Regions from separate parts of the Homo sapiens genome. Here region 1 is linked to region 2. The links come from fine-mapping of genetic effects on gene expression. A gene starts in region 2. The other region holds a variant in brackets. All regions are shown on one strand. Distances are from middle to middle. Region 1 overlaps SNAP91 (synaptosome associated protein 91). Region 2 holds the start of PRSS35 (serine protease 35).

The links. PIP is the estimated chance that this variant, and not a neighbour inherited with it, causes the effect.
Region 1: its variant is fine-mapped to the expression of PRSS35 in lung (TOPMed, PIP above 0.99).

Annotation. Positions count from the first base shown.
Region 1 is chr6:83,565,816-83,571,199 of GRCh38, reverse strand. All of the region lies in intron 26 of SNAP91 (synaptosome associated protein 91), which reads left to right. Among named protein-coding and RNA genes, the nearest start is that of PRSS35, 56 kb to the right of the region's middle. The variant T/C (reference allele first, on the strand shown) is at 2,559.
Region 2 is chr6:83,509,716-83,515,099 of GRCh38, reverse strand. It overlaps PRSS35 (serine protease 35), which reads right to left and starts at 2,566. Exons shown (of 2, transcript NM_153362.3): 1 at 2,406-2,566.

The sequences.
Region 1 (5,384 bases), 56 kb before region 2:
CTGGGAGGCGCAGGTTGCAGTGAGCCGAGATTGTGCCACTGCACTCCAGCCTTGTGACAGAGCGAGACTCCACCTGAAAAAAAAAAAAAGAGGTGGGCGCCCATGGTCCTCGGGCAGCTCCATCCCTGTAGCTTTGCAGGGTATAGCCCTCCTCCTGGGTGCTTTCACAGGCTGGTGTTGAGTGTCTGTGGCTTTTCCAGGACCATGGTGTAAGCTGTCAGTGGAGCTACCACTCTGGGGTCTGGAGGACAGTGGCCTTCTTCTCATAGCTCCACTTGGTGGTGCCCCAGTAGGGACTCTGTGTGGGGGCCCCCATCCCACATTTCCCTCTGCACTGCCCTAACAGAGGTTCTCCATGAGAGCCCTGCCCCTGCAGCAAACTTCTGCCTGAGCATCCAGGTGTTTCCATACATCTTCTGAAATCTATGTGGAGGTTCCCAAACCTCAATTCTTAGCTTCTGTGGCTCAACACCACATGTAAGCTGCCAAGGTTTGGGACTACCACCCTCTGAAGCAACAGCCCAAGCTGTCCCTTGGCCCCTTTGAGTCACAGCTGGAGCAGCCGGGACACTGGGCACCAGGTCCCTAGACTGCACACAGCACAGGGACCCTGGGCCCAGCCCATGAAACCACTTCCCCCCCCGCCACCCCGTAAACCTCCAGGTCTGTGATGAGAGGGGCTGCTACAAAGTTCTCTGACGTGTCCTGGAGACATTTTCCCCATTGTGTTGGTGATAAACATTCGGCTCTTTGTTACTTATGCAAATTTATGCAGCTGGCTTGAATTTCTCCTCAGAAAATGGGATTTTCTTTTCTGTCACATTGTCAGGCTGCAAATTTTCCAAACTTTTATGCTCTGTTTCTGTTTTAAAACTGATTGGCTTTAACAGCACCCATGTCACCTCTTGAATGTTTAGCAGCTTAGAAATTTATTCCACCAGATACCTTAAATCATCATTCTCAAGTTCAAAGTTCCACAAATCTCTGGGGCAGGGGCAAAATGCTACCAGTCTTTCTGCTAAAACATAACAAGAATCACCTTCACTCCAATTCCCAACAAGTTCTTCATCTCCACCTGAGACCACCGCAGCCCACATTTTCCCATCTTCTTCTGAGCCCTCCAAACTGTCCCAACCTCTGCCTGTTACCCAGTTCCAAAGTTGATGCCTCATTTTTGGGTGGCTTTTCTGCAGCGCTCCACTCTACTGATACCATTTTTACCATATTAGTTTGTTTTCACACTGCTGATCAAGACATACCCGAGACTGGGCAATTTACAAAAAAAAAGGTTTCATGAACTTACAGTTCCACATGGCTGGGGAGGCCTCACAATCATGGTGGAAGATAAGGAGGAGCAAGTCACATCTTACATGGATGACAGCAGGCAAAGAGAGCGCTTGTTTGGGGAAACTCCCCCTTATAAAACCATCAGATCTCATGAGACTTATTCACTACCACAGGAACAGCATGGGAAAGACCTGCCCCCATGATTCAATTACCTCCCACCAGGCCCTCCCACAACACATGGGAATTCAAGATGAGACTTGGGTAGGAAGACAGCCAAACCATATCATCCAGGTTTCTGTGTGAGGCAGTTTGCCAAATAATGAGGCCACTAACCCAGAAGGGAACAAGGGAAAAGCACTTTAAAAGTAATATTAAGTTGAAGAACTTCCTTGGCCATTACCCACCCTGAGATCAAGACTTAACTGTGCAAAGTTAAGAATTCATCAAGTACTTAATTAACAACTGTTTTGCATCTTTAGGATAACAAAGCTGCTGACTGATTGGTAGGCACTTTCACAGACTGAGATTGTCTCATTTTTTTAACCCCAAAACTCTTTATTTTTGTTTATGAAGCAGAAAAATTTTAATTATTGGTAATTAAACCCCAGAAAGTGAAATATGGAAAGTTTTAGCATAAAGTATCCACAGCAGCTACGGAAAGAGAAATTAGAACAATAGAAACTATTTGTTACAATAAAGAGTTACATAAAGTTTTATTTCTTTTATTTTACTTAGCATTTTACACCACAATATACAGGCTCTCTTATGCATAGTTATTTTATCTTTATTAATTCTTAGTTTTATCTATATTCTTTTATATAGATACTCCATTTTATTTTTTACAAAGCTGTTCTTTCCTAACAAAGCTGTGGCTTTGCTTTTACTTAAGAAATTATTCTGAGGGAACTATTTCAGCTTTCTCCAACATACCTTTACACCCTGCCTCCCCAGTTGATCTCTTCCAACCTTCTATTCCTTTATAGTCTCTTTCTAGGAATACTCAAGGAAAAGAAGCTAGAGACACCAGAAACAAGTGCTTCAGAAGCAGCAAAGCAGTGTTTCCAAATTTTCCTTGTAATCTACAGGTCTTTGCTATTGAGAAGGAGATGAAGGATGCAGATTTGGGAAGGGGAATCCTTTTGCTGCCTTTTTAAAGTTTTTATTGATAGATAAGCAGTAAGATTACTTTTCCCCACTTATTCCAAATTTCCCTTAATTGCTTCTTAGAGGTGTAGCTATAACACTTTTCAGATCACAGAACCCAAGTTAGA[T/C]CTAAAAACCTTAGCAGGACTTGAATATTGAACTACGTCTGCTGGCAGGGCTCTGTCATCATGGCCATCAGGAGCCCTGTGCTTCCTGGGTTACTTATTCCTGTTTTACAGTGCACAGCAGACCTATTAAGTTATTATTATTATTATTATTATTATTATTATTATACTTTAATGTGCACAACGTGCAGGTTTCTTACATATGTATACATGTGCCATGTTGGTGTGCTGCACCCATTAACTCATCATTTACATTAGGTATATCTCCTAATGCTATCCCTCCCCACTCCCCCCATCCCACAACAGGCCCCAGTGTGTGATGTTCCCCTTCCTGTGTCCAAGTGTTCTCATTGTTCAATTCCCACCTATGAGTGAGAACATGCGGTGTTTGGTTTTTTGTCCTTGTGACAGTTTGCTGAGAATGATGGTTTCCAGCTTCATCCATGTCCCTACAAAAGACGTGAACTCATCCTTTTTTATGGCTGCATAGTAGTCCATGGTGTATATGTGCCACATTTTCTTAATCCAGTCTATCATTGTTGGACATTTTGGTTGGTTCCAAGTCTTTGCTATTGTGAATAGTGCCACAATAAACATACGTGTGCATGTGTCTTTATAGCAGCATGATTTATAATCCTTTGGGTATATAGCCAGTAATGGGATGGCTGGGTCAAATGGTATTTCTAGTTCTAGATCCCTGAGGAATCACAACACTGACTTCCACAATGGTTGAACTAGTTTACAGTCCCACCAACAGTGTAAAAGTGTTCCTATTTCTTCACATCCTCTAGCACCTGTTGTTTCCTGACTTTTTAATGATCGCCATCCTAATTGGTGTGAGATGGTATCTCATTGTGGTTTTGATTTGCATTTCTCTGATGGCCAGTGATGATGAGCTTTTTTTCATGTGTCTTTTGGCTGCATGTCTTCTTTTGAGAAGTGTCTATTCATATCCTTCACCCACTTTTTGATGGGGTTGTTTGTTTTTTTCTTGTAAATTTGTTTGAGTTCTTTGAGGATTCTGGATATTAGCCCTTTGTCAGATGAGTAGATCGCAAAAATTTTCTCCCATTCTGTAGGTTGCCTGTTCACTCTCATGGTAGTTTCTTTTGCTGTGCAGAAGCTCTTTCGTTTCATTGATCCCATTTGTCAATTTTGGCTTTTGTTGCCATTGCTTTTGGTGTTTTAGACATGAAGTCCTTGCCCATGCCTATGTCCTGAATGGTATTGCCTAGGTGTTCTAGGGTTTTTATGGTTTTCGGTCTAACATTTAAGTCTTTAATCCATCTTGAATTAAGACCTGTTAAGTTTTTATCGAACAAGTGGGAAGACATTTGCAATTCAGAAATATGTGCATTTTGCAGGAAGATCACTGTTAAAAGAAAAGCTTTAGACAAAATAAATTTAACAAAGTTGAGCTGGATGCGATAACTCACCCATATACTCCCAGAAACTGAGGCGGGGGGATCACTTGAGGCCAGGAATTTGAGGCTAGCCTGGGCAGCATAGTGAGGCCCCATCTCTAGAAAAATTAAAAAGTTAGCTGGGTGTGGTGGCACATGCCTGTAGTAAGAGCTATATGAGAGGCTGAGGCAGGAGGATTGCTTGAGCCCAAGTGTTTGAGCCTACGGTGAGCTATGATTATGCAAGTTTAACAGAGTTTATTTAAGTGAAGAATGATCCATGAATCAGGTACCTCTCGGAAACAGAAGAGGTTCAGAGAGCTCCAGCACAGCAGTGTGGACCATGAACTTTTATTGGCTGATAAAGAAGTACAACAAAATATATTTTGTTGATCAGAATAGAAGGACCATAATTAGAGGTTAGTTGTTGATCTCTGCTTGATAAAGTCTCCAGTTAGAATCTGTTCGTTGGCAATTTCTGATTGGTAAAGTCTCTAGTTTCATTTTATTATTTATGTTGGGCTTCATTTTGCTTACATGAGAACTCAAGGTGCTAGAGCTGCACCAGTCAAGTGGCATCCCAATTAAAAACTTATCACCACTGAATGTAAGAGTTAATCTACCATTTCAGCAAAATGACTAACTCAGACAATTTCTTCAAACTATTTGACCATTTATTTGATCAGGAATTTCTGCAGGTTCATTTTGCTTTTAAAGCTAATAAAGCCCTTTTCTCTTTCATAGCCTGAAGTCCTAATGATGCAATTCAGGTCTGGTAAATAGCCTACCACCTACCCTGTTGAAATGATGGGTAAAGCATTAATATGAAATATAATTTTATAGGTATTTTCTTTCTTTTGAAAAAATTTTTATTGAGATAAAATTCACATAACATTTAAATTCACTATTTTAACAACTTAAAGTATACAATTCAATGATTCTTAGTATATTTACAGCATTGTGAAACCATCACCATTATCTAATTTCAGAATATTTCCATCACCCCTAAAAGAAACAGTCCCTTTCAATTTCCCCTTACCCTTAGAGCCTTTTATGCCTGGCTTCTTTTACTTAGCATAACATTTTCTAGGTTTATCCATGTCGAAGCATGTATCAGTACTCCATTTTTATGGCTGAATATATTTCATTTTATGGATATACCACATTTTGTTTATCCATTCATCAGTTGATGAACACTTATGTTGTTTCTATTACACATAATAGATTTTTATTATCATATATGAGTTTCCATATGAGCGTATATCCTCAGTTCTATTTGGAATATACCTAGGAATAGAACTCTGGGTCATGTGTAAGTCGATGTTTAACTTTTGAGGAACTGCCAAGCGTTTCCATAGCAGCTACATTATTTTACATTGCCACCAGCAATACATAGGGTTTCAAGTTCTCTATATCCTCCCAACAA
Region 2 (5,384 bases):
AGGGAAGAACTTGCCTGTTATCCATGTTGCTACCACTAGATGGCAAAATTAGCCTGGTGATGGCAAATCTAACGCAGGTATTTAAAATGTTTACACTTACTCAGCTGTGAAATAGATTTTATTTTAAAAGCATGTAAGATTCAGCAGGGGCAAAACTTTTAACTGGCTAATAATATACTAAATGGCTGTGACATAGGGAGACATATGAAATTTATTATATTTAGAAAACCCACCTACCTACAGGCCACAGAGCCCATCCTGATGAACTGAGGGCTGATAATGCTGTCTACAGTCAGACAATTTTCTGGCAGATAGTTTTTCAAAAACAGTTGTAGTGCCAGCACACTTCCAGCATGACCTACAGCACTGTTAACTAGTCCCCCAAATGTGCCACAATTTATTTCAATGCTAAGGAAAATCTTGAACCTGCCAAATATTTCACGTTTATCAAATACTTTATAATCCATTACTAAAGGATAAGCTCTCCACTGATTCTAGGCTGAGAATAAATGGCAAGAAAGTTCATTGACAGTGGGCCAATTTCTATTCAAAATATCATACCATAGCACTATTTTCAAGTTTAGTTTCATAAATGGAGACCAAAAAAATGTCTGCTTAAAAAGTTTGGCAGTACTTGAGGGAAAGGAAGATGGTAAAGTTACACAGTTGATTATTTTACAGTAACCCACAACTTCTGTTTCTCATCACAATAAAAAACAAAACCTCCCTTTGTTTGGGGGCTATTTTTCCATGACCTGTACATCTCAATTTGTGCAATCCTATGGATAAATCAAATTTTGGGTGAATGACATTAAAGGAACCCCAAGAGGACTCTTTCATATGCTGCCTTATGAAGTGCACAGCATATAGCTCTAGACTTATCTGTATTTTTCAAGTTGGCCTTTGAGAGCAAAGAATATCTATAAATAGGTATGCTACTTTTCAGGTTTTAAAGCATCTATGGTCACAATGTTTTTAGCTAACCCACATCAGTTTTACCTATACGAAGCTTAACGTTTTTTAGTTATAAAATAATAGCTTGCATACTACTAACTTAACTTTACTGTTTCCTAACCTCTCCATCTCAGATTTCTCATCTGCAAAGTTACCTCAGTGCTAAGGTAAAGTAGCTCTATCCTCCCAAATTCTGAGTCTGATCCTACTGTTAAAATGCAATATGCTTGTTTGATATTTGAGCATTGGGCAGAGGAAAATCATTTACCCAATGGAGAAAATTAACTCACACTAGCAATTGCTTATTTTAACATCTAATGAACACATACTGTATGCCAAGTATATGCTAAACAGTCTCACATTTTAAAACGTGAAAAAGCTTCTTAAAAGCATGCAGTTTTCCCAGCTATCTGGAAGAAAAATGGGGTACAGTATCCACATCTACCACTTCCCTCACTAAAGGAACTCCTCTAATATTTCCTAATAAAAATAAAATTCCATATGATACTTGGCCTCTACCTTCAAGCCTACATGTCTTATTTGGCAGGGATTTTAACATTCTCTCTTCTAAATTATAAACCAGATTCTAAGTATAATTCTCCAGCCAGCAAAATATGACTTTTATAATCCTCTGTGGAGACAAATGTACTTCGGATAAAATAAGAATGAATTTCAGAAGTCAGAAGGGTTAATAAGGGGTGAAAGCCCCCTAGACACAGCAAGCAGCTTCTTTTCAAATCAAGGACAGTGTAAAAATGTCAGAGCAATCAAGCGGGAGTGTTTCTACAACTTTTTAAAAAACCTTTTATTATAGAAAATTTCAAGACTACACAAAAGCACAGAGAAAAGTATTAAGTTGAGAGAAAAGTACAACCCCCATGTGCACATCACCAGCTTCAACTATTGTCAATATTTTGCCAATGTTTCATCCACCATCACCACCCCACACACTTTTTTTTTTCAGCTAGAGTATTTCAAAGCAAGTCAAAAGCTTTTCTACTTCATTTCGCCGCCTCATTTTCTAAACGTTTTCCTATGCTCCTTTTGCTGACCTCCGCAGCCAAGTTGATAAAAGGGTAGAGGGGAGAGGCTAGCTTTCATAGTAACCCCGCCAAAGAGACTTTTCAGGAATGCGTTTCATACCTTTCTCAATGGCATCTGTTAACAATCATAAAAATAAAGAGGGTCCCCTCTGGTACTGCTTAAGCAGAAAGAATTCCATTTATATTCCAATGCAAACATTGTTGTCGTTAATATTAAACTGTGCAGAGGCCGGCACACAGAATTGCCTATGGGAAGGGTGGTTAGTTTCTTTGAGGACTGAAAGAAAGTGTCAAGTTTGATCCCTTTCTTCAAAGTCCTTCAAAGAAGCTCTCCTCGGGTAGGTCCTGCCTTTCTCAGGGAAATTTCTAAGTTCTAAGGTTGTTGGGTTTGGGGAGCTTCATCTTTACCTGCCAGGCTTGTTTGGTCCCCGAGGGCACTGTCAGCTGAGATCAGAGCTCCCGAGGAGGCGGGCGGGGACGCTGCAGCTGGGAGCCTCTCAGCCAGCCTGAGCCGGAGGCCGCCCCGCCAAGGCCGGGCCACAGCACCCAGAGCTCGCCACTGAGACTGCGGAGGGGGAGAGAGCTGCGCCGCACCACGGCCGGGAGATGGGAGGGGAAAGGGGGCGATGACGAGGGGCGGGCGCGGTGGGATGGAGTGGGGGGAGGGGAGGAGGAGGAGGTGGGCAAGAGGAGACGGAGAGGGAGGGCGGAGAGGGGAGTTCCCTGGAGGAACGGGGCGGACCTGGCCGTGTCTCACCCCAGCATTTCTGCCCCCAAGCTGAATTAAGCATTAGGAAAAATTCATGAGTAGGTTCACAGGGGATGCCTGTCCCTGTAATAGTATGCACTCCTTTAACAGTCTCAGGAGTTGTTCAGTTAAGAGTCTCATTCCTCACTGCTTGCTGTTGAGACCCCAGGCATCTAGAAGAACGGAGGGCGTCTCCCCAACCTTATCCCAAGCTAGTCTCCACCGGGGACCTAGCTTCTCTGGATGCACAAGCCTCAGGGTTACCCCGACTTGTACCAGGCGCCCAGGCTGCACACGAGGATGGGGACCTCAGGCTGGGACGCCTGGACCCCCGGGAGCATCCTGCGCTGCCTCCAGGGGGAGCGCGTCAGTTTCCGTCTGCAGGGAAAAGGCTGGTTTTCCTCTTTGGGCGAGTAACCTTTAAGGTCCTTTCCCATCTCAGTCCCACCAGCATTCTAACCTCATCCGTTCTCTCGACCTTTTATTCTCCTTTAGGAGAGGGGTGGGGGCCACATGAGAAAGGAAGCTTCATTTGTTTAACAACAAATTCTAGTGGGTGACAGGTCTGGGGCAAGATGAACTGATACAACGAGAGAATACATAAACAAAAACAAAAACAAAAACAAAAAAACTCGGTCCTGGCCCTAAAGCAGGGAGATCGAGTAAGTGCACAAGTACTTACAACACAAGGTCTTAGCATGTCTTGTAACACTTGGTTCGTTAGTAGGTTATTGCGTATCTCAAGTTCTGTGTACTTTTAATGAGATTATAACATACTTAGCATTGTCCCTCGTTATACTCAACGGACTAGTTCCAGGCCCTCTTCCCCTCCGCCCCCCCATACTAAAATCATCCCATATTCAAGTCCAAGTCCAGCTGTGGGCCCTGGGGAACCCGCGTATAGGAAAAGTCTGCCCTCTGTTTAAGCATTTCTGCCTGAAAATACTGTTTTCTATCCGCTTTTGGGTGAAAAAAAAAATCTGTGTATAAGTGGACCTGTGCAGTTCAAATATGTGTCCAAGGGCCAACTATATATACAATTTCATTGCTGTTTTCTCATTTAGCATTGTTAACATAAGCATTTACCCATATATTAAAATCTATTGGTAATTTTTACCAGTTAGAATTAGTTCTGAAGCTCTCTGTCACCAATTAGATCATAATAGTCATATGCATCTTTGAATCACCACCATCTACCACAGGGCCTGGCATATAGTAGCTGCTGCATTAGACGTGGAACTAAAAAGTTTGCTAGTCAGATGGAGTGTGGAGAAGTCACAGAGAAAGTCCAGAACTCAGAATGGGAATTCCGCCTGACACTAAATAGCTGTGTGCCCTGGGCCTCCGCTTTTTCATCTGTAAATTGAGATGGTTGAGCTGGAGGAGTTCCAAGGCCTGCAGCTCTCAAACATTTTTGGGATTCTAACACTGTATAAATCCAGAAGGATTCACTGTGGACCCAGGTCTGCTTCCTTCACTTTATTCAGCATTCTCCACTAGCATCACAGAAAGCAAACTTCCAGGGCTCTTTCATTTTCATGCCCCCCTTCTTGAGCCTTTGACCCCAAGCCCTTTTGTACCCTATTTCTGGATCTATTCCAGGTTGTCTTATCATTAATTTGACTGTTTTCAAAATTTATCGCTTTACTTCATCTGGTCCTGATGCTTCGTATTTACTATTTCTCTAGTTCTAGGTTTCTGGCTTCTTATTTTTAAAAAATTTTAATTCATTAAATTTTTAGAGACAGGGTTTTTAAATTATCACTCTGTCACCCAGGCTGGAGTGCAGTGGCAGGATCATAGCTGACTGCAGCTTCAAATTCTGGGCTCAAGCAATCCTCCCACCTCCACCTCCCAGGTACACAGGCACATGCCATCTCACCCAGCTTTTTAAATAATTTCTTTTGTGGAAGCAGGGTCTTGCTATGGTGCCTAGGCTGGTCTTGATGTCCTGGCCTCAAGTGATCCTCCTGCCTCAGCCTCTCAAAGTGCTGTGATTACAGAAGTGAGCCGCCGTGACTGGCCAGAATTCTGGCTTCTCTTAAGCAGGATTTCCTCTCCTGGCCTAGTCCAGCCCCTCAGGTATTCTATAGCAAAGTATGAGCAGTTCAGAAACCATACCAAACTAGATTGTCAACCCATCAAATTCCTCATTCTGGACTTGTAATGATGGTCCTATAATTTTCCAATGCTTCTCAACCAGCTTTCCACATGGGAATGCAAACTTTGGATAATATAACTCTTACCATTTTAGGAAATAATGCATTATAGGAAATGTTATCAGTTAAAAAAAATAAACTCATAACAAAGTTTCCAGCCATGTCTCCCCAAGGTCCTAGACTTTATCTTCAATTATTGTGACTATTGTGACCAAAGACTTTATCAAATTACTTTTAATACAACCCAAATTCTTGGTTAATGCACCAACAAAACTGATAACTATCTGTCCTTTGTGAGGTCCCCAGCTTAATGGAGGCATTTGTATGCTTCTCCAGAAATGGAACCAAGAGGCCCAGAACACATCTTCTGTCACATTTCAGGTCACGAGGGGTGCAGTGGCCTCTCTAGAAGAGAAGCCATGACCACTGTCAGGCCTGGCTATGATTAAGGCTATACTACTTAGCTTTTTTTTCTGGACT